Regions from separate parts of the Homo sapiens genome. Here regions 2, 3, 4, 5, 6 and 7 are each linked to region 1. The links come from fine-mapping of genetic effects on gene expression. A gene starts in region 1. Each other region holds a variant in brackets. All regions are shown on one strand. Distances are between the middles of the regions. Region 1 holds the start of OSBPL6 (oxysterol binding protein like 6). Region 2 overlaps PLEKHA3 (pleckstrin homology domain containing A3). Region 3 overlaps TTN (titin). Region 4 overlaps OSBPL6 (oxysterol binding protein like 6). Region 5 overlaps OSBPL6 (oxysterol binding protein like 6). Region 6 has its middle 37 kb from the start of OSBPL6. Region 7 overlaps OSBPL6 (oxysterol binding protein like 6).

What was found. PIP is the estimated chance that this variant, and not a neighbour inherited with it, causes the effect.
Region 2: its variant is the best candidate, but not a certain one, in a credible set for the expression of OSBPL6 in putamen (GTEx, PIP 0.85).
Region 3: its variant is the best candidate, but not a certain one, in a credible set for the expression of OSBPL6 in cerebral cortex (GTEx, PIP 0.58).
Region 4: its variant is the best candidate, but not a certain one, in a credible set for the expression of OSBPL6 in whole blood (TOPMed, PIP 0.81).
Region 5: its variant is the best candidate, but not a certain one, in a credible set for the expression of OSBPL6 in sigmoid colon (GTEx, PIP 0.85).
Region 6: its variant is the best candidate, but not a certain one, in a credible set for the expression of OSBPL6 in tibial nerve (GTEx, PIP 0.55).
Region 7: its variant is the best candidate, but not a certain one, in a credible set for the expression of OSBPL6 in lung (TOPMed, PIP 0.67).

Annotation. Positions count from the first base shown.
Region 1 is chr2:178,192,334-178,196,570 of GRCh38, reverse strand. OSBPL6 (oxysterol binding protein like 6) reads right to left here and starts at 2,059. Exons shown (of 25, transcript NM_032523.4): 1 at 1,897-2,059. RefSeq lists silencers at 1,075-1,369, 1,816-2,505.
Region 2 is chr2:178,492,637-178,497,104 of GRCh38, reverse strand. It overlaps PLEKHA3 (pleckstrin homology domain containing A3), which reads right to left. Exons shown (of 8, transcript NM_019091.4): 4 at 3,116-3,252; 5 at 1,445-1,609. Among named protein-coding and RNA genes, the nearest start is that of PLEKHA3, 14 kb to the right of the region's middle. The variant AGT/T (reference allele first, on the strand shown) is at 2,609.
Region 3 is chr2:178,622,082-178,626,549 of GRCh38, reverse strand. TTN (titin) reads left to right here. Exons shown (of 363, transcript NM_001267550.2): 241 at 1,154-1,277; 242 at 1,819-2,085; 243 at 3,783-3,880. Among named protein-coding and RNA genes, the nearest start is that of TTN-AS1, 100 kb to the right of the region's middle. RefSeq lists an enhancer at 4,301-4,468. The variant G/A (reference allele first, on the strand shown) is at 2,541.
Region 4 is chr2:178,231,901-178,236,368 of GRCh38, reverse strand. The region is part of intron 1 of OSBPL6 (oxysterol binding protein like 6); the gene reads right to left. Among named protein-coding and RNA genes, the nearest start is that of OSBPL6, 40 kb to the right of the region's middle. The variant T/C (reference allele first, on the strand shown) is at 1,851.
Region 5 is chr2:178,288,449-178,292,916 of GRCh38, reverse strand. The region is part of intron 2 of OSBPL6 (oxysterol binding protein like 6); the gene reads right to left. Among named protein-coding and RNA genes, the nearest start is that of OSBPL6, 96 kb to the right of the region's middle. The variant G/A (reference allele first, on the strand shown) is at 2,581.
Region 6 is chr2:178,155,743-178,160,210 of GRCh38, reverse strand. No RefSeq gene overlaps it. Among named protein-coding and RNA genes, the nearest start is that of OSBPL6, 37 kb to the left of the region's middle. The variant G/C (reference allele first, on the strand shown) is at 2,619.
Region 7 is chr2:178,321,001-178,325,000 of GRCh38, reverse strand. It overlaps OSBPL6 (oxysterol binding protein like 6), which reads right to left. Exons shown (of 25, transcript NM_032523.4): 4 at 732-824. Among named protein-coding and RNA genes, the nearest start is that of CHROMR, 91 kb to the left of the region's middle. The variant A/G (reference allele first, on the strand shown) is at 1,677.

The DNA of each region.
Region 1 (4,237 bases):
CAATCTAGGGATAAGAAAACTTACATATGTGATCCTATAAAAGTCCAGCAGAACTACCTCATACTAAAGCCAAGAGTCACCTGACAAGTCATAGTAATCTGAAACTGAGGTACCGCCAAAGGTAATCCATCCACTGAATGTATAATGGCGTTATCAACATTGCATCCAAAAATATGAGCAAAACCAGAATTTTTAGGCTTTCTAAAAGCCTGAAATTTTAATTTCAAAATATTTCATTTTTACCTTAAGAAAAATTATTTTTTAGGGAAAAAATATATGAACTCCTACTGCAAAAGAATAATAATAATAAAATCCACCAATCAGGGCCTTTCCCAATGAGGGCTATGCATATTCTCTGTAGGTGATTATTGCTGAATTACACTGCAGCTTCCCTTCGACCTTGGGAACCCTGCTAACTCTCAGAGTTACTGCGAGGTCTTCTGTTTCATTTATTATTAGTCTTTGTCTCCGCAATGCTGTAGCATGTGATAGAAATATCAACGTTGTGAGCTTGCAGTACCCAAAACTGTAGAAATGTTTCCAAAAAATAAAGCGGGGGTTGGGGGCGGGGGGAAGGATGAAAGAAGGAAAAGAAACAAAAACAAAACAAGAGGAAAACAAAGTTAATGTATTAAGATGGGAAATTTCTTATTTTTACCTTGTGAAGACTACATTTCCTAATCAGCTTAGTGATATGTAACCATTAGTATGCAATTTTTAAATTTAAGAAAAGATGTCCAAGAAAATTATTTAGAAAAAAAAAATCACAACTGAATATAATAGACAATTGGCTAAACTTAGCCCAGCAATTTAAAAATGAAAGTTCCTATAGAAAAAACCTTACAGGATTTTGTGTCCAGAAGAGAGAAATAATCTGGCAACCCAGTGGGTTCACTTAGTTTCGTGTCATTTGCTTCATGTCCATTATGTAATGCTTCCCCTAGCTTTAGGTCTCTATGTTTAAGCAACCGTTCAGGTATATCATAGAATTGTCACAAAATCAGTATCTGGTTATAACTTTCAAAAACAGCTTAAAAGGTGCCTTGCAGATGTGTCTATACGCAGCAGAAGCTTTGGGGAGAAAATCCGCTTGTGTCATTACTTCTCCAGGCTTTCTCCTCAGGTCTCCCATTCCCTCCTCCCCCAGCATCCCCGGCGACACGATCTGCGGGCAGCTCCCGGCTTGATGCAGGGGAAGCACGTCTTGACTGCAATGCAAACGCTGTCCCGGTCTGAACCAGGGAAGGCAGACTTGGCCCTGGCCGGGGGAGTGGACGGAGGCTGCCGGGAGGGCTGCAGGGGCGCCAGCAGCGGGTGGGCAGGGGTGCCCCGCGAGGGCAGTCCGCAGTGCACGCGCACAATAAAACCCAATGCACAACTTCCCCAGCCGCTCCTCTCGGCTTCCCCGATTCCCTGAAAGGTGCGGCGTAGGCGTTAGCTCTCGCGGGCGCGGGCGCTCTCACCCGCGCCGGTTCGGTTTTCCGCTGACAATTACATCAGTCCTTCTCCCTGCCCCTGCTTCAATCCCCAGGCAGCCTGCGGGGAGCAGGGGCGCCGGCCCGCGCGAGGGAATGCGAGCGCTAGTGGCAGGCGGCCGGAATTCCCTGGCAACGAGGGGGAGGGAGGGCGGCAAACCGGGACCGCGATACAGACGCCCCCTCCCATCCCGGCCGCGAGAATGGGCTGACACCGCCGCCCCCACTTCCCTGTAGCCCGGGCTATCGGCCGGGGGCGCCTCCAGGGGGACGGCGATGTCCTGGGGACCCGAAGCTGCGGCTGCCCACCCACGCGTCCCTCGGGGTCCTCGGCCCGCCGGAGGCGCACAATGCCCCCGGGCCGCGATGCGGGCACCTTGGCGCCCGCCCCAAGCAATCCCTTTGCAGCTAGGACACCTACCTGGAGGGCGAGCGGTGGCGCCGCGGACTCTGCGGCGGCTGCGCGGCTGCGACGGGAGGCAGGAGGCGGAGAGCCGGCCCCGGCAGGCGGACTGGCGCGCGGGCTAGTGGAGGAGAGGAGGCATGGGCGCCGCCTGCACCGAGCCGCGATCTCCAGCACCGACAGCGGCGGCGGCGACCGTGCTGCGCCTCCAGTGGTCCGCTGCGCTGCAGCCCCTCCTCTCCCACGGGCGGGGCGCGCTGGCGGGGCGGCGCTCCGGGTTCCCCGCCCCCGGCTCCCGCCCGTCCGCCCGGCTGGAGTGGAGCGGCAAGCGGCTGGGGCTCATGCTGCGCACCCGCCCTACCGGGCGCCCCTCCCTGCGCCGCCAGATGGGCTAAGGACCCGGCGCCCTGCGCCCTGGTCACGCGGGGTCCCACAGCCAGGGCTCTCCCCTGGCCCGGCCTCCGTGGGAACCCGTGGTGTCCCGAGATCACCCGCAGTGGAAACCCCGAGTTGCCATCCGCGGGCCTGCGCGCAGTAGCGGAGCCCTCGCCCCGCGCAGTCCGGCGGAGGTGAGCCGGCCGCGCTCGGGAGGGTTGCCCAGAACGGCTCCAGCGCTCGGCCCAGGAGCGCCGCAGCCGGGAGCACTGCGGGAGACCGAATTCCGAAAGGAACGGCTGCCTGGCGGCCTCCGCTCGGGGCTGCCAAACCCATGTCCCTGGGCGCCCTTCTGAGGTCGTCATTTCATACACTTACGCGACTGTGCGTGCCTGCTCCCGTCCCTGACTCGCTCGGGAGCAAAAACTTCCCGGGCCCAGAGAAACACCTGGGTTCTGCGAAAGGAAGAGCCGGTTCCTTCAAGCCCCTGGCAAAGCCGATCAAAGTCAGTCAGTCCCGCCTCACTACAACCCTTCCACACCCTTAAACCCTTCCACACTCCAAGCCACTCCCGGCCTGCGTTCGGTGTGCAGATTAATCTAAAGGCAAATTTGCTGGGAGGGACGGGGTAATGTAAATATTTGTACAGACATTCTGTAAACGAGTGACTGCGGACATGTCAATATTTCAAGACATTTGTGTCATCATCATCTGGGGGTGGGAGGCGGAGGGGGAGTCCAGAGGACATCGACTGGACTTAATGGGAGCTATTACAGAACATGCTGGGGTGCCTTCAAAAATGGAAGATATTGCTTACTAATGAGGCAACTGTGATGGCATTTCATTGTGCCCTGTGCTGACAAAATGATTTGCTATGAAACATAGTCGACTTTATGCACTCCTTCCCACATGCAGTTTCTCTTGAATCTCCAATCTCACCTGTTGGATTAGCTTTTTCCATCTAGACTAGCAATGTTCTCATGTCCTCTGGTCACAAAATAATAGATGCGGGACCCTGCGACAATGGCAGTTTGTCCTTCATTCCTTTGCTGTGAAGACAGGCTCCTCAAGGGAGCAGCTGGGATGCTGACCTCTGCTTCATCACAGCCACCCTTTCTACTTACTCCTTCTGAGTTCCATTAACAGAAACTCTACTGAAATGGCTTTCTCCCTTAAAAGAAAAAAAGCTAAAACCCATGTATTTAAAAAGAAATACAAAAGTGTGAACGGAAATGAGAGTACACACAGCACACAGAATCTTTACCTAAAGAAGTTCTCTAGGCCCGGCGCGGTGGCTCACGCCTTTAATTCCCGCACTTTGGGAGGCCAAGGCGGGCGGATCACTTGAGGTCAGGAGTTGGAGACCAGCCTGACCAACATGGTGAAACCCCGTCTCTACTAAAAATACAAAAACTAGCAGGGTGTGGTGGCAGGCACCTGAAATCTCAACTTCCCGGGAGGCTGAGGCACAAGAATCGCTTGAACTTCCTGAAATCTCAACTTCCTGGGAGGCAAAGGATGCAGTGAGCTGAGATCGTGCCACTGCACTCCAGCCTGGGCTACAAAGTGAGACTCTCAAAAAAAAAAAAAAAGAAAGAAAAAGAAGAGGTTATCTAATTTTTTCTCTGAACCCCTAATAGCAGAGAACCATAAACTATGGGGAAAGAGAGGGGACTACCACAACCTAAATCTCACGTTTTAGTGTAAGAATGTTCTCACGCTTTTCACTCTATTCCATAGTATCTATGTGTGTTTTAATAGTTTTAAAAAATGGCTTTAAACATCAGGGGAAAAAAGTCTCCCCCCATCTCATTGATTAATGGTCAAATAAGAGGTAACGGTACTACACGCATCCATCTGGGGAAATGGGTGGATTAAACACAGCGGGCTGTGCGGAACTAGAGATCAAGGCAGTTTCTCCACCCTATTGGTGCATCAGTGTATCTTGAAAACTCAGACTGGCATAGATATGTAAATATGAATA
Region 2 (4,468 bases), 300 kb before region 1:
GCATAAAAGAGGGTGTGACGGCTGGGCATGGTGGCTTATGCCTGTAATCCCAACACTTTGGGAGGCTGAAGCAGGAGGACTGCTTGAAGCTAGGAGTTTGAGACCAGCCTGGGCAACAAAATGAGACTCCATCTCTACAAAAAATAAATTTAAAAACTTAGCTTGAAGCCAGGAGTTTGAGACCAGCTTGGGCAACAAAATGAGACCCCCCCCATCTCTACAAATAATAAATTAAAAAACATAGCCAGGCACCGTGGTGTGCACCTGTAGTCCCAGCTACTCAGGAGGCTGGAACTTGGGAGTTTGAGGCTGCAGTGAGTTATGATGGTGTCACTGCACTCCAGCCTGGGTAACAGAGTGAGACCCTGTCTCTAAAAAAATAAATAAATAAATAAGTAAAAAGGCTGTGACAAGTCCCATCAAACCCAATTCATATCATTTAAGTTAACCTAGCAATTCCCAAATTAATCTGGCCATAAAACTCATTTTCATGGTACGCTTGCCTCAGAGGAAACTATTAGCCCATCAAATACTGATTAGAAAACAATTCTCTAAATAAATCTAGGCAATAATCTTTACTAAATCTCATAACTAAATTTGCTGGGATAGGTAAGAGAACCTAGGAAGAAGTTAGACCCTATTCTCCTAACAAATAGATCTTCAGGTAATTGCTGAAACAGCAACAAGGTGGCATTCTTACTCCTATAAATGGACTCCTAAAAACACTTTGATGCAATAAACTTGAAGTCTCATTAAAGCTTATCTCACCTACAAATTTCTAACAGCATGCTAGAGCAAATTTATTAGCTCAGAAAGGACAACGAATCTGCCACCCCTGGCAAAAAGAGGACTTGTTCTGAGCAATAAGGAAGTAAGAAACTAACACTGAGCACCTAACAGTAAGCAGGTCAGATCGTTTGCAGTGACTCTCTGATATACACTGTATTTTTACACATGAAGAAACTGAAGATCAGCTACTCTGAGGGTTCAGATCCAAATGCTTAGTAGAGAATACCGTTCCCACCGGAATATGTTTCAAATTCCTTCTAACTCCTTTAAAGATATACGTAATTGTACCCCATTGTGACTAAAATCTCATTCCATTGTGTAATTCTTACCAAGCAGAATAGAGCTCCCCAACTTTTTCTTTGTCACAGCACTTTGTAATATTTTCCTAGACACTGGGGAAAATGGATGAAGCAGCCTGTGGGCAGGCCATGCACAGCCCCTCCAAGGAGAAGGGAATGAGGACACTAGCACAAGTGCTCAGCTCATCAGCTAAGAAGCTCGAATATGAAACAGTACAAACAAAAAAATTCAACTTGTTAGCTGTTCCCCGCCCCCCAACTGCCTGCTTCCACCCTTAAAAATAAATACCAAAATGAAACGAAAACCACATGCAACATTACTACTGAGGGAAAAAACCAAAACAAGAAGTTCAAACCATTTGAACAGGAGAAGGTGACACAGGAGAAACTAAGGGATCCGGATGGTGCAGTTGAAACATCTCAGGTTTAAACTTGGCATTGGCTATCTTCACACATTCCTCAAGCGTTGTGATGAATGTGTTACACGTGGCACTAAGCAGAGAAGAGGCTTCATTCATGTTCTGAAAAATTACACAAAGACTTGAACAGATTTGCATACAACTACATGGAATCATATACAACCTTATCATTAAATAATAAGACATCTCCAACAGACACATTACTATGTTATGTTCAAATTTATTTAAAATACAGTACCTTAGAAAATTAAGCTGGGGCAAAAAAAGAAAAAAGAAAACATTAAAACATCTATGTATAAGAAATGCCTGTCTCCTAAACAATGTATGAAACTAGATTCTAAGAAAAAATAAGCTTTGCATTTAATTATCATATTGAAAAACTGTGTACAAAAGTTTATCTTAGAGAAATCTAACCTAAACAGTAATTTTCACTTTCCCAAAAGTGGACACAGACATGGAATACCCTTAGAGTTAATTAGTGGCAGTACAATTCATGCCTACCCTCTATCCATTCTCCCACTTCTTCCTTGATAGAGTAAAAAGCCCAATTTTGTTCAGGATCGCAAAGTGCCCTGATCCTGGGGGATGAATAGAGACTGATCTAACCTAGTCATGGCTATTCCAACACTCTTTACTAAATGCTCATTTTTTCCTAGTTTCCTTTGAGCCGGAAAAAAAAAAAAAAAAAAAAGATGAGAAGTTGGCTAGGGAATTTCTGGGATTTTTGTTTCCCGATTCAAAACCAAGCACAGCAAGTTGAGAAGGACTCTCTCTACCCTGGCAACCCCACTGCCTCCTGCCTCTTTGTGAGCTTGACAGTCATCTTGACACCTGGGGCATTAGGAGAAAAACTCAACACACCAAGAATGGCAGAGTGGAAGGATGGAACAAGCCTGGGTCCCTAATACTGTCACTGAGCTGCTGTAGCAAGTGTGAGGTCAACTACCTCCAGGGAGCTTGTGGTCAGTTTGTCCTTGGGCTTCTTACACAAGATTCCTCCCCAACAGGAGAAGGCCACAGAAGAAATAGGAAGATTTCTTGCCCCACTTCTACCAAGTTAGGCAAAAAGGGACAGGCAACATGCTGGCCTTTCACCCAGAG[AGT/T]GGTATAGCTCACTGGTCCTATTTTACCATGAAGAATGAGCCTATTATAGCCCGATCCTACTAATCTGAGTTTTGATTCCTAAGTCACTGTTCTGAGAAGGATTTGTTTTAAGTTATTTCATAAAGATAAGTTATCAACTCTCATAGTTGAAGCAGGGACCTTATTACCAAAAAAAGAGAATAGCAGCTGTCCAGTGAATTTATGCCGCTAGCCTGGAGAACAAAGCCTGGAATGCTTCTTCCCCACTCCAACCTCCAAATTATCAGACTGGCTGCAAAGACAAGCCTTGACCCCTGGAGAAATATGCTACTTCATGTTCTTCTCTGGCCACACAGACACAATCGAGAAGATGCTACAGATTTCCAGATAGTATACAGTAGGCAGAACCCAGAAAAGCTGAAAATAACTCAATGTGAAAATGCCTGTCATCTTATGGAATGACTGAGGATCCCCCCAGAGTACTCCAAAGCATAACCACACGTGAAGAGATCCTCTTCGCTCTACCTCTGCACTAGGAGATGAATGATTCTCATCATGGTGAACAAATTCCTGTATTGTATGAACTTGCTGCATTAAGAGGTCACAGTAGAGGCGAAGTTCAGACATTTTGGTTTTCAGCGATTCACTGGTTTCACTTATTTCTGAAAAGAATATACATAAATATACAGTTAGATCATTTTCATATTCTTTGAGCAATGTAACAAAATGTAATCATTTAAAAAAGCAATGAATATAAATACCTATAGCTCAAGAAATGTGAGACCTTGGAAACAGGATACAAGAGCCCTAAGGAAACATCTTCTCTTCAGATAATTGGGAAAAAGCTGACAGTTATATGCCTGCCATGTTTAGGTGATTTCCAGAGATAGGATGATGACCACTGGATGTTTTATACAGGATATTTCCATTCCATTACTCATCTTCCATTTAAAAAGTGCTTGGTTTTCTTTTGTGAATTGCTTTTTTATTTTGTCCTTTATACATTTTTTCCAGTTCTGATGTTGGTTTTTCTCTTAACAATATAAACTGATAGTTTGTAAAAGTTCTTACAAATTAAAGATAGTAATCTTTCCTCTATCTTATATACTGCAAATACCTTATCCAGATCTGTTAGCTTCCTTTCAGTTTTCTTTATTTTGGCTTACAGAAGTTTTAAATTTTTATGTAATTAAAACTATTGTTTATAAACATTCATTTATTTTCTTCTGTTTCTTTCAGTTTCATTCTCACATTATACTATTTTCAAAATTTTTTATTAAGAGCATACTTTCTTCCTTAGTATGTCCAGACAAACTAAACATCCAGCCATAATCTCAGCCACTCACAAGCCAATACCTTTTAAACTAGAAGTATAAGCTACAGAGGAGGAAAATTCATAGAGTAAATTTCTGGTGCTTCTCCACACTCCCTGGGCCAGGCCCCAGTGGTCTTGCTCTCTGGTCCTAGCCACAAAGCCACTTTTGCCAGAATGGACAAAGCAGCTCTATCTGCGCATTTAATCTAACCTAAATCAATTCCTGCTCATATTTAAGCCTATTCTTTCTCCTTTTTAAAAAAAACTGTGGTAAAGTATACATAAACATAAAATTTACTATTTTAACCACTTTTAAGTATTCACTTCAAAATGTGCCATTAAGTACATTCGTATTTGTAAAATCATCACCACCATCCATCTCCAGAACGTCTTCATCTTCCCCAGCTGAAGGTCTGTACCCACTAAACACTAACCCTGTTTCCACCTCCCCCTGGGCCCTGGAAACCAACATTCTATTTTCTGTCTGTATAAGTATGACTGCCCTGGGTATTTCATATAAGTGGAATCATAGACTATATGTCCTTCTGTGATTAGCTTTTTTT
Region 3 (4,468 bases), 430 kb before region 1:
TTTCTTTACACTAGCATAACAAATAGTTCCACTGGTGAAAAACTTTACATTATTTTTAACGCTAAGTAAACTCTTAAGCAGTGCAAAATCAGTCTGGATGACAGGGCACAGCTTCTTAGGAATTTTATATCATAGAACTGGAAGAACCCCCAAGTCTCTTATCTTTGCTGTCAGAATGACCCCTATCTGTCGCACCATTGACATCTGATTTTCCCATTCCTGATGCTTAGACACATGAAAAAGGAAGAAGAGTCCAACTTTCATTTGCAGTTTTGAACAAAATTAATAGGTTGTACAAATTATTTAATCACAGGTTTAATTGGTTTGCAAAATAAGTTTAATTGCTAAAATAAATGGGAAGAAGAGTTATAGCTTGTTGTTGCATGGCAAACACCTTACATACAGAACATAAGGTTTACTTTTAGCTTGCCATAGCTGATATTTTCTTTCATCCTTTCATGAATTCGCTTTTCTAAGTTCTTCCTTTATATGTATATAAGCCCAGGGGCAGAATGGGGGCACACATATATATACACATATACGTATATACTATATGTGCTGTATATCTACGCATATGCAAAAAAGACCACAAATGTAAACAGAAACTGGCCTGGGCAATTTCAATGTGAAAGGCCACCTAGTAATTATATAAAGGTAACTATGAAACCCTAAAATTTTCTTGAAAGATCCCAAACTGCATAGTATTCCATGGTGTATATGTGCCACATTTTCTTAATCCGGTCTATCATTGTTGGACATTTGGGTTGGTTCCAAGTCTTTGCTATTGTGAATAATGCCACAATAAACATACGTGTGCATGTGTCTTTACAGCAGCATGATTTATAGTCCTTATACCCAATGCTAGATGATGAGTTAGTGGGTGCAGGGCACCAGCATGGCACATGTATACATATGTAACTAACCTGCACATTGTGCACATGTACCCTAAAACTTAAAGTATAATAATAATAAATAAATTTAAAAAAAAGATCCCAAACTATTGGTTGAAATGATTTTTGAATGCATACGTGCTAAATAGATGATTATAAAACAACTTGGAAAGCTCTATTTCCATTTATTTTTATCTAAATGAATTAAATGCACCCATATACTAGATTGCTGTTTCATGTATTCTTTTTTTAAAAACAACTAGGTGGTCCCACGTTCAGAAGGAAAAGTTCATACACTTACTCTGAGGGATGTAAAGTTAGAAGATGCTGGGGAAGTCCAACTAACAGCAAAAGATTTCAAAACTCACGCCAACCTCTTTGTGAAAGGTAATTACAAGGCTTATTTTAAAAACATGTATAAGGCAGAGGCTCATGAACAATGCCAACTCTCAATTATCTTTATATGATGAGTACTATAGATGTTTAAAATCAACCAAATAATCAAAAGTCTGATTTTACTTTTTAGCATAACAAAATAATTCACAGACTATCTTTTTAAAGAGCCAAAATTGACTAGCATAGGTTTTACTTCCTCCTTCCATCTCTATTGTTTTTATTGCACATCCTAGATTTTCAAAAGCCAGCTGGAGGAAGAATTATTATCAAGCTAGGTATCCATCACTTTATTAACCAAGAGTTGGCTGTTATTTCCTTAATGTTTCCTAGTTTTTAAAAATGATTTTCCTCTTGTCTGTACAAATAATGATAAAATATCATTTTTAGAGGAAAATGTCTGAGTGTAATCAAAACTTGAAAATAAAACTTAGGACAGAACAAAGCCCTGGAGATGGCAGGGGAAAGTTGAGAAGGTACCAAAACTCTTGGAGAAGGAAAGGAGTACCTTGGCTAATGAGTATGATTCTTTCAGAACCCCCAGTTGAATTCACTAAGCCTCTTGAGGACCAGACGGTCGAAGAGGGAGCCACTGCAGTGCTGGAGTGTGAAGTCTCCAGAGAAAATGCTAAGGTGAAATGGTTCAAAAATGGGACAGAAATCCTCAAAAGCAAGAAGTATGAAATTGTTGCTGATGGCAGGGTCAGAAAACTTGTTATACATGACTGTACCCCAGAGGATATTAAAACATACACTTGTGATGCTAAGGATTTTAAGACTTCCTGTAACCTGAATGTCGTGCGTAAGTATTCTTCTTACAAAGGACTTTTCATTTGCAATTCTTTAATAACTACAACAACAAAACAACACAACACTTTTTGCATGCCCTTCTTGGCCTAACTGCATTTCTTGGCAACTTCTAGTATTGACACTGACCTAACCTGATCCTTTATGTGTTTAAAGAAAAAAAGAAAAGAAAAGTCTTATTCTATGTCTGGTCTGATTAATGATGGAGCAATCACTTTTCCCTATGCTTCTTTTCTCTCACTGAGTAGTGAGTAGATGTGCTCTTTGTCTACATGGGGTCAGCCTACTGTATGGATATCCTGATATGGATGAGGAGAAACTGAATTTTAAAGATAAGTAGGGAGTCCTAATTTTAAAAACAAAGTAAAAGTGATTTCCATGTGGAAGGAAAATGAATTTTCAGGTGTGGGGAACAACTAGAAAATGAGCATGAAATTTCAGTCTGAATAG[G/A]AGCATACTAGAGATCTGCTGTAATATGACAAAGCACATTCACATGATTCAATCTCTGAGAATAAGAATGGATAAGAAGATGGAGTGAGGCCCTGGATCTTTTGAGTCCTGGACTCTTTGAATGAAGAGAACTCTAATGGTTTTTAACATTACTTCTTCCTCTGGTGAAAAATGTAATGTCTTTTTTCAAAATGCCACATACTAGCTTATTTGTTTCATTCATTCCTTTGTCCAGTGATGACATTTTTCTGCAAATTTTTTGTGCAATATTTGTTTGTTTGGTTTGGTTGCTTCCCATCTGTCAACAGCTACAACCTAGTGACTCTGTGCTTCATGCATCTTGTACCATGTTTTTCTTACCACTTTGTGGTTGCTCTGCTCAAGCTTATGTCAAAGTAGCTTCTTGGGTCTCCTTCTTCACCTTGACATCTACCTTCACTCCAAGAAGGCTCAGCTGCAAGGAGCATATTTTCAAACCTATTAGACAGCATTTGTCTCAGAATCTTATTGCTCAAGAATGGTCATCTTGGGAAGGACTCACAGGGAGCTCTGAAAGAAGGAAGGGCAAGGGGGCAGCTCCCTAATCCTATACACCAGCTGAATTAATTCTACAGATGAATGAAATAACAGATGTAAAATCCTAATCACCCTCCCATACAAAACACATTGCTTTATTGCACTAATAGATGTTATGCCTGACTTATATGTGACGTCTTCAAAGCTGATTTTTTTAAAAAGCTAAATGTATGTTTCAATTACAGCCTCATGCCTCTTAGCCATACACAAGGCTGGCCATAGTGCTTCACGTGTTCTATCTTTGAATTCTGCTAATTTCTCAAAGATTGTGCTAAGTGCCTTAAATAAGACAATGTTTCTTTGCCACTGGTGTCTGAAGTTTCCTTTGACATTATCTTTCAAGTCTGGTGCAGTGCAAATGAAGATTTTTCCTCCAGCTATTATTCAAAAGAACTGAGATGGCTCCCTAGTATATATACTGTACACACACACATGCACACTAGTTGAACATATAGAATGCCACATAATTTTATGTAAACTAAAGAGATATCTAAAAAGCAAAGCATCATACCTGATGGGCAGCTTCAAGTGATTTCAAAGTCAGTTGTAGTCTATTAAGATGGAAAATCCCTAAAAAAGAGTCACTTTTTCTTAATGTATACTATGGTAATGTCAGAGTAAATTTCCAGAAACCTCATTTTGAATTCTGATGACATTCTCTTACAGCTCCTCATGTGGAATTCTTAAGACCACTCACCGACCTTCAAGTTAGAGAAAAAGAAATGGCTCGATTTGAGTGTGAACTTTCCCGAGAAAATGCTAAGGTCTGTGACTGTATACCTGTCATCTTGTACTGTCAAATAACTTTATATTTACTTTTGGTCTAGCCAAAATGGAAAAAAAAAAGTTAGTCACAACTTCTCTGGTCACCACTTTACTTTTAAAGATAATTGTAGTATAAAATGTATTCTTGACTTTAATTGCTCTCTTTTTAGTATTATTAATTTACTATTACTTGAAAAACACTGGACTCACAATCAGGAGATTTAGATATTAGTTTGAACCATATGAAAGTGCTGTTTTCTTAGATCAGAAAGTCAAATATCAGCAATTATATTTCTTTCAACTAAGTACCTCCTGTTGCTATTAACTACCATTGGCAAGTTTCTTCAAGTCTGAGCCTTAGTTTACACATCCAAGAAGTTAGTCTGCATAATGTCTAAGGCTCACTATAGCTCTAAACTTATATGATCCCATTGTTTTTAATAACTGATAATAGTATCACAGCAGCTAACTTAACAGTAATTGGTAAGATTGTTCTTGCTTTTGGGGTTTGTTTATATTTGTGTCTGCCACCTTGGTTCTTCTTCACACTATGAAGTCTTGTTGGTTGCTTTCAGAAAAACTCAGGA
Region 4 (4,468 bases), 40 kb before region 1:
CACTCCACTGTGGTAAAAAGTGAAATCCAAACTTTACATCCAAGGCAAAATTAGCTTTCTTTTCTTGGCTACTGAACTCTAATTAATTGAACTAAGACAAAAACATCATTAAGCACTACTCACTAAACTTATAATTTTTTTTTCAGGATTAAGATATAAGAGTATTTCATCATCATTTTAGCTGCTACCTTTAGCATAAGCATGTTCTATCATCTTAAAGGGATAATTTAATTTTTAAGAGACTGTAGCAACTAGAAACAAGGATTAAACAGAAGCAATGGTTGCAGAGAACATATAAAATGAGAATACAACTTGTAAAAAAAAAGTCTAACTTGTTAAAACAAGTGATATAAAATTGAGACATTTAAAAATTGAACCCATGTAACAAGCCTGCACATGTACCTCCTGAATCTAACGTAAAAATAAAACAAAAATTGACATTTTCATATTCTGATTACATTCCAACATCAAATAAAATATCCAGCTATGAAAAGGTCATTTTTCATTAAAGACACCCAAGGAATAGTTCTTTATGCTAATGAAAAATACTTGAAAATTTTAAAAAGAGGAACCAAACCATCTAAAAATTAGATTGTTAAGCCATAGGCATATTGATACTTATCAAGCACTGTGCATCTTTTTCCAAATAGAAATTGTATAAAATGCCAGGTGCAGTGGCTCACGCCTATAATCCCAGCACTTTGGGAGGCCAAGGCAGGCAGATCACGAGGTCAGAAGATTGAGTCCATCCTGGCTAACATGATGAAACCCCATCTCTTCTAAAAATACAAAAAATTAGCCGGGCGTAGTGGCACATGCCTGTAGTCCCAGCTACTCGGGAGGCTGAGGCAGGAGAATTGCTTGAACCCAGGAGGCAGAGGTTGCAGTGAGCCAGGATTGCACCACCGCACTCCAGCCTGGGTGACACAGCGAGACTTTGTCTCAAAAAAAAAAAAAAAAAAAAAAAAAAGAAAAGAAAAGAAAAAGGAAAGAAAGAAAAAGGAAAAAAAAAAGAAATTGTATAAAAATATCTGTTTCAATGAAAGGAAGAAGAGATACAAATAAGACCACAAAAAAACCATTAACCCCAAGATTATATATGTATAACTCAACCCCTCCACCAAAGTATTCTATAATTAAGTAATTCATGCATCAGGACCAATGTCTTGCCTCTTTGACAATTTATGAACATTAACTGGGAAGGTTTTTGTTATATATATTCTACTGCATACTGTTCAAAGGGATCCAGAAAAGTAATACCTAACAAATAACCCATTTATTAAGTATGTTCTTTGTATAACAGAAGAGTATCCGGCAAAGTACCTATTCTGGAGCTCATCACAGAGGTTAACAAGATAAATTTAGAAGTTATCCAAACATATTTGATAAGGTGGTAAGAGTGAGTGGCATGATTCACAGACAAGGCAGAACAAGAAGAAAAAGGACCCAAGGCCAATCTCTCTGAAACAGTGGTTCCCAGGTTTTAGGGAGCTTCTTAAATGACTACCAGACTCCATTCCTTGAATCTGATTCAGAGTGTTTGGTGTGGGGCCCAAGCAAATGGGTTTCGTAATAGGTACTACAAATGATTCCAAAAGCAGGTACTGTCTGGAAAAGCCTTTGAGAAAAACTACCCTAGATCATAAAAGGAAAAATGGATAAATTGGACCTTACCAAAATTAAAAACCTTTGCTCTACAAAAGATCCCATGAAGAGGATGAAAAGACCAGTTACAGACGGGGAGAAAATGTTTACATATTTGAATAAGCTCTGTGGATTGTACTAATGTCTATGTCAGGGTTTTGATACTGTACTATAGTTTTGTAAGATGTTACCTTTGGGGGAAACAG[T/C]GAAATGTACACAGTACCTCCCTGTACATTTTTGGGCAACTTCCTGTGAATCTATAATTATCTTAAAACAAAAAGTATTTTTTAAAAATGACTCTCTCTCTCTGTCTCTCTCTCTCTCTCACTGGTAACAAGCCGGTAGGTTATACTGCGGCCTGAAATACATTTTATTCTAAAGGGCTTAAGTCCAGCAAAGGTTGGCAACTCACAACCTGTGAAATATTTAATGATGACAACCTGAATTGGACAGATATTCTCTCCAACTCCATATTCATTCAGATTCAACTGCAAAAGTTGATGTTGTTGTCATTATTATTACTATTTCATTTTCTAAAGTATTATTATGACAGGTACCATAGAAATTGAGTAAATGATATGACTTCAGACATATATGGTAATTAGCATTAAGAACTGTTATGAAAATATTTCCATTTTCTTCCTATTAATGTAATACTGAGTGAACATTCAGTCTTTAAGACTATATGATTAGTATTATTAAATAGCTGAATAAAGTAAATTATTCAACTCTTGAGAAAAAAAAACTGCCACTAGAGAACTATTACTGTCTCAATATGTAAAGCATGAGGCAAGAGTATTTTCAGTGTCTCTAGAATTGTGTCTACTGTGAATAATATTACTAATGATAATTACTAGTGCTTATAGAAGAATTATCATGTGCCAGATACTGTGCTAAGCTCATCATCCTAAGTAGATCAGCTTAACATTCACAACAACGCATGAGGTGGGTACTGTCACTAAAGACTCAAAAAATAGTGAGATTAAATAGCCTGTCCATGGCCAGATCCCTTCTGATGCCAAAGTTCAGCCTCCAGGTACTGAACATCGACTGAAATCTCCCTCCCTGCCCATGTGTCATCACCTCCTTAACATTTCCAGAGGCTGAGGGATCCCCAGGATGATGCTCTGAGTCATGTGAGTGAAATCAAAGACACTGACGTCTGATGAGATTTTTAATCTGACACTAAACATTTCAATGACTAAAGTAATAATATCCCCAGTAATTCTGGATGAAATAGCATTGAAAGCAGAACTGCCAGAAATGAAGGGGTCCTACTCTCAGATGGTTGAGAAGCCTCAGCAAACACAGAGGATGCAGCCATAATAAAATAAGGCCAAGTAAAACCCATGAAAATGGCCACAGTTTTCAGAGAGCAAGGCTGGTTCGCAGGAATTAGATATTCAGCATTGGAAGTTGGTTGCCACCCGATTTCTAACTTCACCTTTACTGTGTATTTCATTTCTGAAGCAAATTCAAGGATTCTTTTTTAAAGGGGAAGAAGCAAATTCCAAACCTATCCAAGCCTGAAAAAACTCCACTTCCCATTTCTGCCCTCAGAATATCGAACAGGTTTCTTGAATCAGCTGTTTTGAAGGTACTTGAAGAATTGTAACAAGTAGAAAATAAGAATGTAAAGTTCCCAATATTACAAAAATAATTACCATCTAGGCAGTACACCATGGGGTGTTTCTACTCAGGCCATCAGGAATTAGCTTTGTATAATTGCTTGATATCCAGTGTCGGTTGCAATTACAAATTATCTGAAAGTTTTAAAAGAGTCAGGTGTTCTGAGTTATTCTGAAGTGTTTCTCAGAGACAGGAGTTCAGCGTATACACGAGTACATCTGAGGCCCAGTAACAGGTCCTACCCCCACTACACAGAATGGAAAGGTACTGCGAGGGATATTTCTGGGGTACTGCTTTTGAAAGACCAATTGGGAGCTGTTACCAGAATAAAGTACTGGGCTGAGTAGAAACCTCAATATTCTGGTAATAAGAAAAAAAAAAACAGCATGTGATTTCAAGACAGTAAAAACAATAAGCAAAATGTAACATGTTACTTAAATGCTAAGAGTAATGAGCTAGGTAACTGTTTCCTCCTCTATAAAGGAATAATAATAGCAGCTAATGATTATTTTGTGAAGTGTGACAGTGTTCTACTCACCTTTTGATTTAGCCATCACGACTACCTTATAGTACAGGTTCTATTATCCCATCTTACATATGAAGAAATTGAGGCTCAGATAGGTTCAATAGCTTATCCAAGATCATGCTGCTGGTTGAACCACAGCTGGGACAAGCACTTTTGAGTCCAGAGCCTTCCCCTCTCTTTAACCTTGGTGCCCTATGTCTCTGGGATTAGTAATTTCCAAACTTGTTTACTTCCTGGAAGTCAAGGTACTCATGAGAAACATAATTTGAGAGTCAGAGGATGAGGGTCAAAAAAGAAAAAAAGCAATAATTGATATATTAAATTTAAAGTTAAAATATACCTTTAAGATGTTATAAAAATATATCTTCATTATCTTAGACCAGATTCTAGAATAAGCAGCAAAATATAGCAAATGTTTAAGAAAAATGTATAGGAAAAGCTTCAAATAGAGGAAAGCTATAATATTATTTTGGCTAAGTGAGAAAAGATATTATTGTTTTACCCAGTTTATGGATCTGAGCAGCAAAACACCTGTGTCTAGTTTCTATGGCATAGGAGTACAGTTTAAGAACCCCTAAGATGATTATCAAAGACATGGAAATTTCAACAAGAATTAACCGTGTTTAAGTTTATAAATTTGCTTAATAGATTTGCAGAGATTAAAAAGGA
Region 5 (4,468 bases), 96 kb before region 1:
GAAAAAGTCAGCAAATCACCCTGCAGTTCTCAGATCAAGTGTTACCTCAGAATAGGCACACACCTTGTCACTTTCTAGAACAATACTCTTTTCATTTCCTTCATAGCTCTTATCTCACGCAGTATTTATATTATCTGTGTACTGGCTTACTGTCTGTCTCCAGAGACCTCATCTGTCTTGTTTCCTGCTCTCCTTGTTATAACCCCAGGGCCCATAACAGTGCCTGGAGGATACTGAGTGGACACTCAATAGACTTTGCTGGATGAATGAATGGATGGATGGATGAATTAAAGCCTGTCTGAATGACCAAACACTTGAGATATAGAGGGGATGATGTAAGACACATGATAAAAGACATCTATTTAGATGACTCTTAGTTCTAAAACGTTAAACCTTTAAATAACTAGCACCAGCCATATACAGTTGAAGTTTTGGGGAGCGTGTGTGTTTTTCCTTCATCTTTGTAGTCATTTCTTCCAAGAGCAAAGTTTAGAATTGTTGCTTGGAAAGCCAAACCTTTCAAAGGAGATTTGTGTTGTTGGTTCACTGCAACAGTAGTTCCTGTCATTAATCATTTGATATGCAAAGTGAATAAAGTAAAATTTTAAATTACCATCAAAGTTAGACTTATTAAAATATTAATCATTCTTCTGTATGTAAAACATATTTGAAAAATAATTCACAAATGTTGGATTTCAATTTTATGGTCATTTGGGAACAAGATATTTTGAGAAGACGGGTTAAAAGTTTACTGGAAGGTCCTGTACCAATCATTGAGTTTCGGGGAAAAAAAAGTTTACTGGAGGGTGGGGGATGGGAGGAGGAGGGAGAGGATCAGGAAAAATGACTAAGGGGTACTAGGCTTAATCTGGGTGATGAAATAATCTGTACAACAAACCCCCATGACATGAGTTTACCTATATAAAAAACCTGTATATGTACCCCTGAACCTAAAATAAAAGTCAAAAATGAAAGTTTAAAAGACAAAAGGGGGAATGGTCTAGATCTCCATCTTCCCTTCCATTGCCTACCTCTGAGATTCAGGTTCAAGGAATTAACTGGTTGTAGGAAAAAGACATCAAGGATGAATGGATGGATGGATGGATGGATGGATGGATGGATGGCAGGCAGGAAGGAAAACAGGGAAGGAGGAAAGGAAAAAGGGAGGAAGGAAGGAAAGAAAGGAAGGAGGGAGGGAGGGAGGGAGGAAAGAAGGAAGGAAGGAAGGAAGGAAGGAAGGAAGGAAGGAAGAGACTACCTGTTCCTATATTTTCTATGAACACTAACATTCTCCACGGGTCAGATATAACAAAATGTGTCCAGGAAACAATGCACTTGGTCACTTGACAAACCAAAGAAGAGAAAACCATTCCAAAACAAGTACCGTAAGTATCCATTTATCAAATAAAAGGAAGCAATAAAAAGAAGAAGCAATAAAATAAAAACACTGGAACACCTTCAGTCTCTCTGCTTTATTTAGAGTGTTTATCTTTCCTTTGTTTCTGGACCTGCATGATGATGAACAGTGGACACTAACAAAGCCATTCAATATGGCACACACTGATCTACCATCCAAAATGTACAATCATCCCACTGTCACTCCTGGAACACCTGCGTATGATGCAGTGAGTTGCAAATAACTCAGATAATCTGGTGAACTAAAGATTTAATAGACTGAATATCACTGCCAAGAAACATATCAACATTAATACTAAAAATGGAGTTGGGGAGAAAAATTCATCTTCTGTCTTCATACAGAAATTTTGAATGACTAAAAATAATAGTGATAATAAAAGGTAAAAAAAAAAACACCTCATAGTTAACTCTTTATTCTGTAAGATTTTCTCTACATAAAAATATAACAATAATTAGTAGTTTTCATGCTGAAATTATTAATTTGAAACTATTTTGTGTGCCCAAAGGATAAAGTAAATACATTTATAATGCTGTTTTGAACCAATGGTTTCAATGTAAAAGAAAAAAGATACAAATATAAAATTAAAAAATTAAGACTCCATAAAGTTAACTCAGGAAAATCAGCATGAACTCATCATTTTTTTTTTCTTTTTGGACACATGTATTTCCCACCTTGTTTCCTGAAAAGGCATGGAAACACTGACAACCCATGGAAATGAGCACCCCTAGTGCCTGACTATAGTTTCTAAATTCTGTTTCCTATTAAAAAGAACCAGGCTGCTTAGAATGGCTGATTCTTAGACTGGGGTATGGAATGCACAAAAAGAATTTGGGGCAACCTGTTGTATCAAAAAGTAGAGTCAAAGAAATTAATAGGACCAGGGATGCTTTGGGGATGTTCTGTATCTTGGTCTGGGTGCTGATTATATAGGTGTGTCCAGTATGTGCAAATTCACTGTGATTCACATATGATAGGTTCTCTTTTCTATACGTATACACAGGAGCCAGGTTGAAAGGGCTCATAATGAACAAAGAAGGTTTTGTTTGAGCATCAAAATGAAAAAAAAAAAAAAAAACCACTACAATTAAGTATGTGAAACATAACAAATATTTTTTTAAATCCTTGAATTTACAATGATTCTCAAGAAAAAAGGGAAGTTTCTC[G/A]CTAAAAAGCAGAAATATCACCTTTTGAAGAAACTATAGCACCAACTCTGATATTGTCAATTACTAGGGAAATATTAAGCAATCACCCTGCCCTTCCTATATGAACTGTATTTCAGGGCCACCAAATACTAGTTGATGATGGAAGTTCTTTATAAAAGAATGACAGCTAACAAATGTAGAAGGAATAATAGGATGGGGTGGGGGTCACCATTTTTATAACCCCTAATGACATAATGTATTCAGGCAATGATTATTGGCTGACAAAATCATGAAGTGAAAAAAACGGATGGGGTAACTTTAGAACAGGGGGATCAGGATGTTCTTCCCCGAAACACGGTCCAATGACAGCATCACTAAAAGTGGGGTAACTAGACCATATGTGCCTCCTGAGGTGGCACTACGTAAAGTACACAGCAAAAGGAAGCAGAATTCTTGCCAGAATAGTTAGATCTGAATCCAATCAAGCCTCTTGATCTAACTTCCAAGTTCTAGTAAATCTGAGTAATAGAGAAAAAAGTTAAGTAACAACAATCAGCCAAACCTAGTATGTGGAAAGTTCTATTCCCAAAGTGGCTTAACTTCAACAAGTGAATGACTTGAGAAAAGAAAGGGAATATTCTAGATAAGAGTTTTATGAGACTCAATAGCCAAATGAAATGTATGCACTTCTTCAGATCTGGTTCAAATAAACCAACTATTAAAAGAGAATTTTGAGACAATCAGGGAAATTTGAATATGGAATGAGTAGTAAATGATACCAAAGAAGTATCATTCATATTGTTAGGTGTGACATGGCAATATGGTTCTGTAGGAAAATGTGCATATTAAAATATGCCTACTGGAAAATGCAGGGGTGGATATGACATGATGTCTACTTCTAATGACTTCTGATAAATGGAGAAGGAGATAGATGAATCTGAGTGTGTGCGTATGGTTGTTCATTATGCTATTCTTATACAAAAGCCTAAGTTTGAAATTTTTTCAAATGAAATGTATTTTTAAAATATAGAAAACAAAAACTGGCTGGGCACAGTAGCTCACGCCTGTAATCCCAGCACTCTGGGAGGCCGAGGCGGGTGGATCATGAGGTCACGACTTTGAGACCAGCCTGGCCAATATGGTGAAACCCCATCTCTACTAAAAATACAAAAATTAGCTGGGTGTGGTGGCACGCATCTGTAGTCCCAGCTACTCGGGAGGGTGAGCCAGGAGAATCGCTTAAGCCCAGAAGGCAGAGGTTGCAGGGAGCCAATATTGCACCACTCTACTCCAGCCTAGGTGACAGAGCGAGACTCTGTCTCAAAAAAAAAAAAAAAAAAAGAAGAAAAAGAAAAAGAAAACAAAAATCAACAGAAGAAAAAAGTCTTAATAAAGAAAAAACGTCCCTGGCCGGGCACGGTGGCTCACACCTGTAATCCCAGCACTTCAGGAGGCCAAGGCGGGTGGATCACTTGAGGTCAGGAGTTCAAGACCAGCCTGGCCAACATGGTGAAACCCCGTGTCTACTGAAAATATAAAAAATTAGCTGGGCGTGGTGGCGGGCGCCTGTAATCCCAACTACTTGGGAGGCTGAGGCAGGAGAATCACATGAACTCGGGAGGCAGAGGTTGTAGTGAGCTGAGATCGCGCCACTGCATTCCAGCCTAGGCAACAAGAGCGAAACTCCCTCTCAAAAAATTTAAAAAAAAAAAAAAAGTCCCTTTTCCCTACTATTTATATATGAAAACCTTGATATGAACAGTATACTCCTTTTTTTCCCCCACTTAGTTACTTATACAGTTATACATACTTTTACTGGATATGTATTCAAGGTACAATTTATTTTTCAGAACTGGTCTAAATCTTTCAGGTGTTTGGGCGACTCATTTTTCTAAAACCTCACAAACCA
Region 6 (4,468 bases), 36 kb after region 1:
ATAGAGTAGTCAGGTTCATAGAAACAGAAAGTAGAAGGGTAGTGGTTGAGGGCTGGAGTGAGAGGGAAATAGGGAATTTTTGTTTAATGGACATAGAGTTTCATTTTTGTAAGACAGAGGTTGTGGAGATTGGTTGCACAACCGTGTGAATATCCTTAACACTACTGAACTGTACACTTAAAAATAGTTAAGATGGTGAATTTTATGTTAGTATGATTTTCAATTAAAAATTTTTAGATTAAATTAAATACATTTTTATAATCATTAGAAGAAAATCTAGGTAAAAATATATCAAATGTAAGCATGACATCAAAAGTAAAAGTCATAACAGAGAATGTCTATGTATACAAAGAATGTGTTAATGCTGATTATCTGTTGGCCTTTGTGTTATGGTTACTTTTTAAAATCTTTGATTTGCTATTTTTCTGTAATGAACATTACTGAGTTACATAATGAGGAAATGCAATAAATAATTTTTAATTGGGACAAATGAAATATTGTGGGTTTTTTTGTCATTCACCAAAGATTGTGAATAATTATAAAATTCAGTGTTAGCGAAGACATGAAAACAGCTACTCTTATACACTGCTATGGGAATATCATCTGGTACAACCTTTCTGAAAGGCAATTTAGTCACCTGTACAGGCCAAAATTGATCTGTGGTTTCTAAGTCTCTTTATCTGAATGAATTGCATTCTGTTTGTTTGTTTGTTTGTTTTTTGTTGTTTTGAGATGGAGTCTTGCTCTGTTATTCAGGGTACAGTGCAGTGCGCCATCTCAGCTCATCAACAGCACACAGGAAGCTCCTTACCATGGTGGAACCATTTGCTATCACTTTGACATCTTGTCAAAAAACAAGGGCACGTGTGGAAAGACTGAAAAATGCCTGATAAAGGGCCAACTTTAAAAATAGAAAGGAGATAATTAGGAAAACACAAATCAACATGCTTAATGTTTCTGTTTAGACAAGATCCTGAAGCATTAAGCTGTAACATTTAAAAAATATTTTTCTCAGTAGAAGGAAAAAATGGAAAAAGGGTGTTTGTTTCATAATACTGATAGCATATCACACTTATATTACTTGAAAAAGCAAAAAAAAATTAGTAATATCCAGGACTACCTAATTAGGCAGAATTTTAAATCTGACATCCCTACAGATACAGTTTTCTTAACTTAAACGTTGATTTCTATTGCCTATGGTCTGATAAAAATAGATGTTAACAAACAAAACAGAGCTAATTTGTGTCATAAGAATTAAATCTCAGTCTGTTTCTGCAAAAAATGATTTAATCTGCTAATGCCTGGGGTAAAGGATTTATAGCAATTTTTCAAATAGGAATAGTTCCAAATACTAGCTTTTCCCAGATATTTCCCCCAAGGACTTATTATAAGAGAACTTCAATTGATGTGTAAATGAAGAAGACAACTGCCTACATGGATGATTCAGGAGAGTACCAAAACCATCTATCTTACTAATGCCAACAGATTCATTATCTTCCTTCCACCAATCTCTGGGTATGTTTTGAATGGAATAAGCCTTAAAAAAAGAAAAAAAAAGTTTCTTTCTACTGCAAACTCTTTAAGGAGAATGATACATTACATCCTGTTATGAACTAAATGTTTATGTCCCCTGAAAAACTCATATGGTGAAATCCTAACCCCCAAAGTGATAGTATTTGGAGGTGGGGTCTTTGGGAAGTAATTAGGTCCTGAGGGTGGAGCAGGATTAGTGCCTTTTTAAGGAGAAGAGCTTGTTCTCTCTTTTTCTGTTTCCCCACATCCCCTTCCTCTTCTTTCTCTGCTCCCTGCCATAGGAGGATACGTGGAGAAGATGGCCATCTGCAAACCAGGAAGTGTGTCCTCTCTAGACACTAGATCTGCCAGCACTTTTATCTTGGACTTCCCAGGCTCCAGAACTGTGAGAAATAAATATCTATTGTTGAAGCTGCCCAGTTTATTGTAGTCTGTTATAGAAGCTGGAATTGACTAAGTAAGGCAAGTCAGCTCCAGTAGGGATGAGTTACTCTTCTGAGAAGGGAGGAGCCATGCAATATGAATGCATGGAACACAGGGATCACTAGGAGGCAGGGGTTGAAAGAGGGAGAAAATAGCAAAGAAAAGGGTGGTGGACCAGACAAACTTGTCCTACACCTTAACTTGCCTTCCCAAGACAGACTCTGGCTTCCTCTTAGGCTTTTTCTGTTCCCATTCTCAGCGTCTATATCTTTCCACTTCATGCTGTTTGATCAAGAGAGGGAAAGTGGAGCAGGCAAAGAGAAGCTCATAAAATTTTAATGTTATAAATTATAGCCGTATTTAATAGTCAGAAAGTTGAAAAATAATAGTCCTTTGTAACTCCAGAGAGAAACCAGTTACCGAGATGGCACAGGTAGGCTTTCGGAGAGGCAGACTGTGAGTCAGAGATGAGCAGGCAGGAGGTTCATTAGGCATGCTCCAAGGATCATCACCTAGGACAGGAAAGGCAAGGAAACGGAAGGGACTGGCAGAGGGAGAAGTGGAGCCGTGATGGATTGATGGATTCTCAATGAAACCCTTAGCCCTCTGGGATGTTCTGAAGCAGGGATGACCTATCAAAGATGCCTTGAATTGGGGCAACA[G/C]GGCTAGGCCTTTATACCTCTGCATTGACCAGTGATTGGATGTAGACCACCCCAGAAAGGGACTGTCACCTTAGGCAAGGAATCTCTCTTCAACTGAGGAAATTCCTGAAAGGAACTGACAGCTGAGGGCTGCCTTGTCCACAGCATTCCTTGCTGCTTGGGGAATAAAACCTTGAGTCCTGAAGGGGGAATCTGAGCAGTGCATCACAGTGACCACCACAGAAAGAAAACTTGTACCTACCACAAAACTTAATGTATGTTTAATAAAATTTGTTTAATAAATGAATATCCTTGTTCTGTCTTGCAAATTGTCCCCCTTCCCAACAAAAAAATAAATATGGTATTATTAAAGTTTTTATAGACAATTGTCTTCGATAACTAGTTTTTCTCATGTGAAAGACTGGCAAGATATCGTTCTGTAGCTAAACCTGTGACCAAGGAAAATGGCATTATGTGACAAATATCTGTGAGAGTCTGCTGTAACTTAATGTACGTTTAGTTTTGCATTTTTGTGAAGAACAATTTGCATTTTGAAGCCATGTTAAACATACAGAAAACTTACAGAAAGAGGACAAAGAACTTTTGTTACTTGAACAGTTTGAGAGTAAGTTGCTGACCTGATGCTGTATTACCCCTATACTTTAGTGTATATTTTCCTATAGACAAGGATATTCTCCTATTTAACCAGAACACAGTTACTCAAGATCAGGGAGTTAACATCAGCACATTGCTATGATCTAATCCTTAGACCATGTTCAAGTTTTGTCAAATGTTCCAATGTAATTTATAATAAAATAATCCAGTCCAAAATCAAGTACTGCATTTAGTTCATCTCTTTAGTTGTCTTCAATCTGGAACCATTCCTGTCTTTCCTTGACTTTCAGGACCCTGACACTTTAGAAGATTATAGGTCATTAATTTTTATAATGTTCCCCAGTTTAGCTTTGTCTGATATTATCTTATGATAAGGTTATGCTTCTTTGGCAAGAATCTCACCGAAGCAATGCTGTGTTCTCATTGCATTCTATCAGAGGGTCTACATTTTCAATTTGTTTTATTACTGAGATGTTCACTTTGATTATCTGATTAAAATGGTATCTTCTAGGCTCCTCTATTATAAATTAACCTCATTTCCCTTTTTTTATTCATAAATATTTTGCAGGACATACTTTGAGGCTATGTAAATATCTCATTCTCCACTAAGTATCAATTTATTTATTTATTTATATGACTGAACTCATAGATTTATGCTTTAATCAATTTATTACTATTATTTACTTTGATGCTCAAATTGTTCCAGATTTATCTAGTGGTGTACCCTTCAAGCTGACTTCTGAGTCATTTTGACTTGATGCTTGCACAATTTTGGGGGGCACTTCTTACTTTCTAGCCTAGTAAGATGTTCCAGGTTAATCTTGTATTTCCTCTGCCCTAATCCTGAAATCAGCCATTTCTCTGAGCTCTGTTATTTTTTATTTTTGGAGACACAGTCCCTCTTTGTTACCCAGGCTGGCGTACAGTGGCTCCAGCATAGCTCACTGCAGCCTTGAACCTCCTGGGTTCAAGCAATCCTCTCACTTTAGCCTTCTGAGTAGCAGGGACTACAGGTATGCACTACCACACCTGTCTAATTTCTAAAAAATTATTTTTGTAGAGACAGGTTCTTGCTATGTTGTTGATATGGTTTGGCTCTGTGTCCCCACCCAAATCTCATCTTGTAGGTTCCATAATTCCCATGTGTTGTGGGAGGGACCTGGTGGGAGATGATTGAATCATGGGGCTGGGTCTTTCCTGTGCTGTTCTATGATAGTGAATGGGTCTCATGAGACCTGAGGGTTTTATAAACAGGA
Region 7 (4,000 bases), 130 kb before region 1:
ATCTGCAGTGTTCTCTCACGAGCTCATTGCTAGGAAGGCCAGATGTGAGAAGGAGCCTAGAAGCCAGAATATACAACAGTCCCTCCGCATAGGTTCTATTTTACCTTGCAGCTTGGGAAGAGCTGACAAGCATTGGTTGTGGAGTTGGACAAGTCTAAGTTTGAATTCTTGCTCTGCTATAATCCTTGATAGCTTATTTACTTATTTATTTATGTTTTTACTATGGGCAAGTTATTAACTCTCAGTTTCCATATTTGTAAAATGTGATAAATACCTACACTGTGTGGAGCTGTTTATGAGAACTATATTAAATGGGATAATAGATTTAAATACTTCTCATAGTGTCCGGTGATGCAGTACATGGGCAATAATGGTAGCTGTTATTATTTTTATTGCTGGATGCAGTTTTTTTTCTTTTCCATTAGCTGGGCATAGAAATATTTGTTTATCTCCAACAGGGAAGGCAATAGCTTCTTTTTCCTTCTTCCCTTAAACAGAATTTTGGACCTTTGAATGTAACCCTACAAATCCCAGCAAAGTATACATTCTCTGTTCTCTCTTATAAAGGGCAGAGAAACTCTACTCCTTGGAAGCAGAAAAAGTGCAAAGAGTTGCCTACAAGTGGCATCACAAGTATTTTAGGGGAGTCAGGTGTAAACGTTATTCACAGTTCAATTGGCCCCAGAGCAGGCATCATGCCAGCAGAGAAAGCACCGCATTTCATCACTGACCTTGGAGAGGGGGACTGGCTCCGGTTCTAGCAATTGCCGACTTACAGAGGGCTCGGTGCTAGAGGAAGCAGTCCTCTCCAGTATGTGAATACTCTGAAAATAAATGAAAACATAGCCCAGGGTTAGACAACTCACTTTTCATGTGAATGTGCATGGGGATGAAATCATACACAACACAGTCAAAACAGTGAGCTATGTTAAAAATGGCAAGTTCCTGAAAAGACCAAAGATAGCAGCAACAGACAGAAAAATATGTCGGCACAGGATTTTCCCCTCCTCTTCTAGATTTGCTGCTGAACTGCTGCTGCAGTGCCGGTTTCAGTCTTGGAGAGTCAGAGGAATATCTCTCGAAAAATTTTATGATACACACAAGAAAACTTACAACTTTATGACAAAGACACACCTTCTACTTAGACTAATCAGGCTTACATAGAAATATTTGCTCATCTCTCCAACTGGGAATAGCAACAGACAAAAAGAAAGGTCTACCTTAAAAAATCCAGTGGCGGCCAGGCATGGTGGCTCATGCTTGTAATCTCAGCACTTTGGGAGGCTGGGGCAGACGGATCACTTGAGGTCAGGAGTTTGAGACCAGCCTGGCCAACTTGGTGAAACCCTGTCTCTATTAAAAATACAAAAATTAGCCCGGCATGGTGATGGAAGCCTGCAATTCCAGCTACTTGGGAAGCTGAAGCAAGAGAATCGCTTGAACCTGGGAGACGGAGGTTGCAGTGAGCCAAGATTGCACAATGCACTCTAGCCTGGGCAACAAGAAGGAAACTCCATCACAAAAATAAATAAATAAATAAAAATCCAGAGCCTTCACACCCTTCAGTCTCTAAAGTTTCTTACAAAAACGCACAGAGAAGAAAACAATTCACCAAATACCATAAACGGTAGGTGTCTTTTACAAAGAGCATTTATATATTAGCAAGATAAAATTTC[A/G]ACAGAAAAATGGGTGAAGTACACGAATAGTTAACACATGTAAAACATTTGAAAAGATGTTCTAACTTAGAAGTATTCAAAAAGAGAATCAAAATAATAATTTCTTTTACCCATCAGATTCAAGAATGAAGTGGGGTTGGAAGAAAGAAAATATAAATTAGATATGATCTTTCTAAAGCGGAATTTTGCAATTATATTAAAGCCCTTGCGGGGGAAAAAAAGTACATGCCTTAACCTAAATTACATAAATCTACTCATTAAGAATACTTCACTATCTTGGCACATTATGAAAGCATAAAAGAAGGAAACAAATCTTGTTTCATGCACTCTTCAAATACATGAGAGCGAAACTTCCCTACTGTAAAGACTACAAAGATTTTTTTTAAAGGTTTTTTTTTTTTTTTTTTAAATGCATGAGGTGATTTTTCTAAAAAAGAACCATGGCTAATAAAGATCAAAGATACGAGTGTCACTGTAAAGATCAAAGATACAAGTGTCACTGTATTACAGAGATATAAAATGCTTCCCCCACCAACAAATAAATTACCTTATACTTTGAGATAATTTTCCATAGGAAAAGAAGTTTCCAACGTAATTTTTGAAATAACCATTTAGAAATTACACACTTTAGTAGCAAGTTTCTCCCTCACTATTTAATAGAATATCAACAAAAAACTTCATTCAAATAAATATAATAAAGTACAAGACCAGAAACTACCAGTGAAATACGTTATTTATTCATTCATAGTTCAATTTATCAACATGTCATTATTAGGCACCTACACTTTGCCAGGCACAGATGACAGGGCCACAGAGAACAAAACAGACAAGAGAACTACTCTTATGATGCTTATATTCTAGAAAGAGTTCTTATCATACAAAAGACCAAATCATGGTTAGGACTTCTTTGTAAGCCCACATATTAACCTTGTTTCATGTGGCTACTGCTTTTGCTTACTTTAATCTTCCAGTCAGGTATCTCTGATCTGAGCTTCTCTTTAACGACTCTCCCCGATCCCCATCCTTTCAGGTTGCTGGGCAATAAAACACAGATACATCACCAACTGTTTCCCCCACCTCCAAAAAAACGTGGTAAGAAAAACAAAACCTGGAAAGAAACTTGACCTTAGTAACTATGTAGGCAGGAAATAAAGTAACTAAGCTAGGGAAAGGAAATTAAATCCCCTAACTTCCAAGTCAAGCCATAGATATAGAAATCAATGTGGTATATTTGAAGTGTGATGGAAATAAATTTTTCCTGTATAGATACGAGGGGATACTTAAGATGTTGCCAGAATTATGTGGGTCAGAAGGGTTAGTTAGCAACCACACAAACCAGGACCCACAACTGTAAAATACCTACCACAGTACCTAGCACAAAGAAAACAATATTAGTCTCTTCTCCATTTGATGTTACAAAACAGTTTATATTATGGAAGAAAAATAAGAAGTTCAATCACTTCAAATATAGCACAATATATCTAAACCCTAAATTCTGTTGATTTGTCAAAGCCCAGAGAATCATAAAAAACATTTAGTGAGACATAGCAAGTAAATGAATATTTTTATTATCACTAATGTATGTATTTGTTACTGAAAAAGTTAAAGGACAATTTAGAAAACTACCAGCTGCTACCCATTATTGTAATTGTAACTAGCTTCAAAAAATAAGCTATTCCATGTAACCTCCAGGATGACAATGAAGAAGCCAACAGCTCTTGTAGAAACTCACGAGTCTAGAACCTATCATTGTCTATTCAATAATAAAAAATTAATCCACTACCTTGAATTTTCTCCAAACTCATGGTTTTAAAAAAAGCATAACCCTAAAGTTATGTAATTATATACCAAGCAATTTGTTATTTTAAATGAAATATCTAAGTAATTGAATGTTGTATTTTTTTACACCAGCAGCTATAAAGAAGACAGTTTAAACTGACCATACCCAGTCCTGGCCTCTAGCTAGATTGAGTGCTCCTTGAAGGTGGGGACAAGCTCATCTTCATCCTGGAATTCCATCTTCTCTACCCGTAATCCACCCCATCCTAGCACAACAATCTGCACACTGAAGCCAGTCAAAAATGTGTGGAATTTTTTAGTGCTAATTTGCAGAGAACAGTCCTTCAGCAATCAATTACCTTCCAGCTTTATCTTGGAATTATTATTATTATTTTTGAGACAGAGTCTTGCTCCATCGCCAGGCTGGAGTGCAGTGACACAATCTCAGCTCACTACAACCTCCGCCTCCCGGGTTCAAGAGATTCTCCTGCCTCAGCCTCCAGAGTAGTTGGGATTACAGGTGCGTGCCACCACGCCCGGTTGTA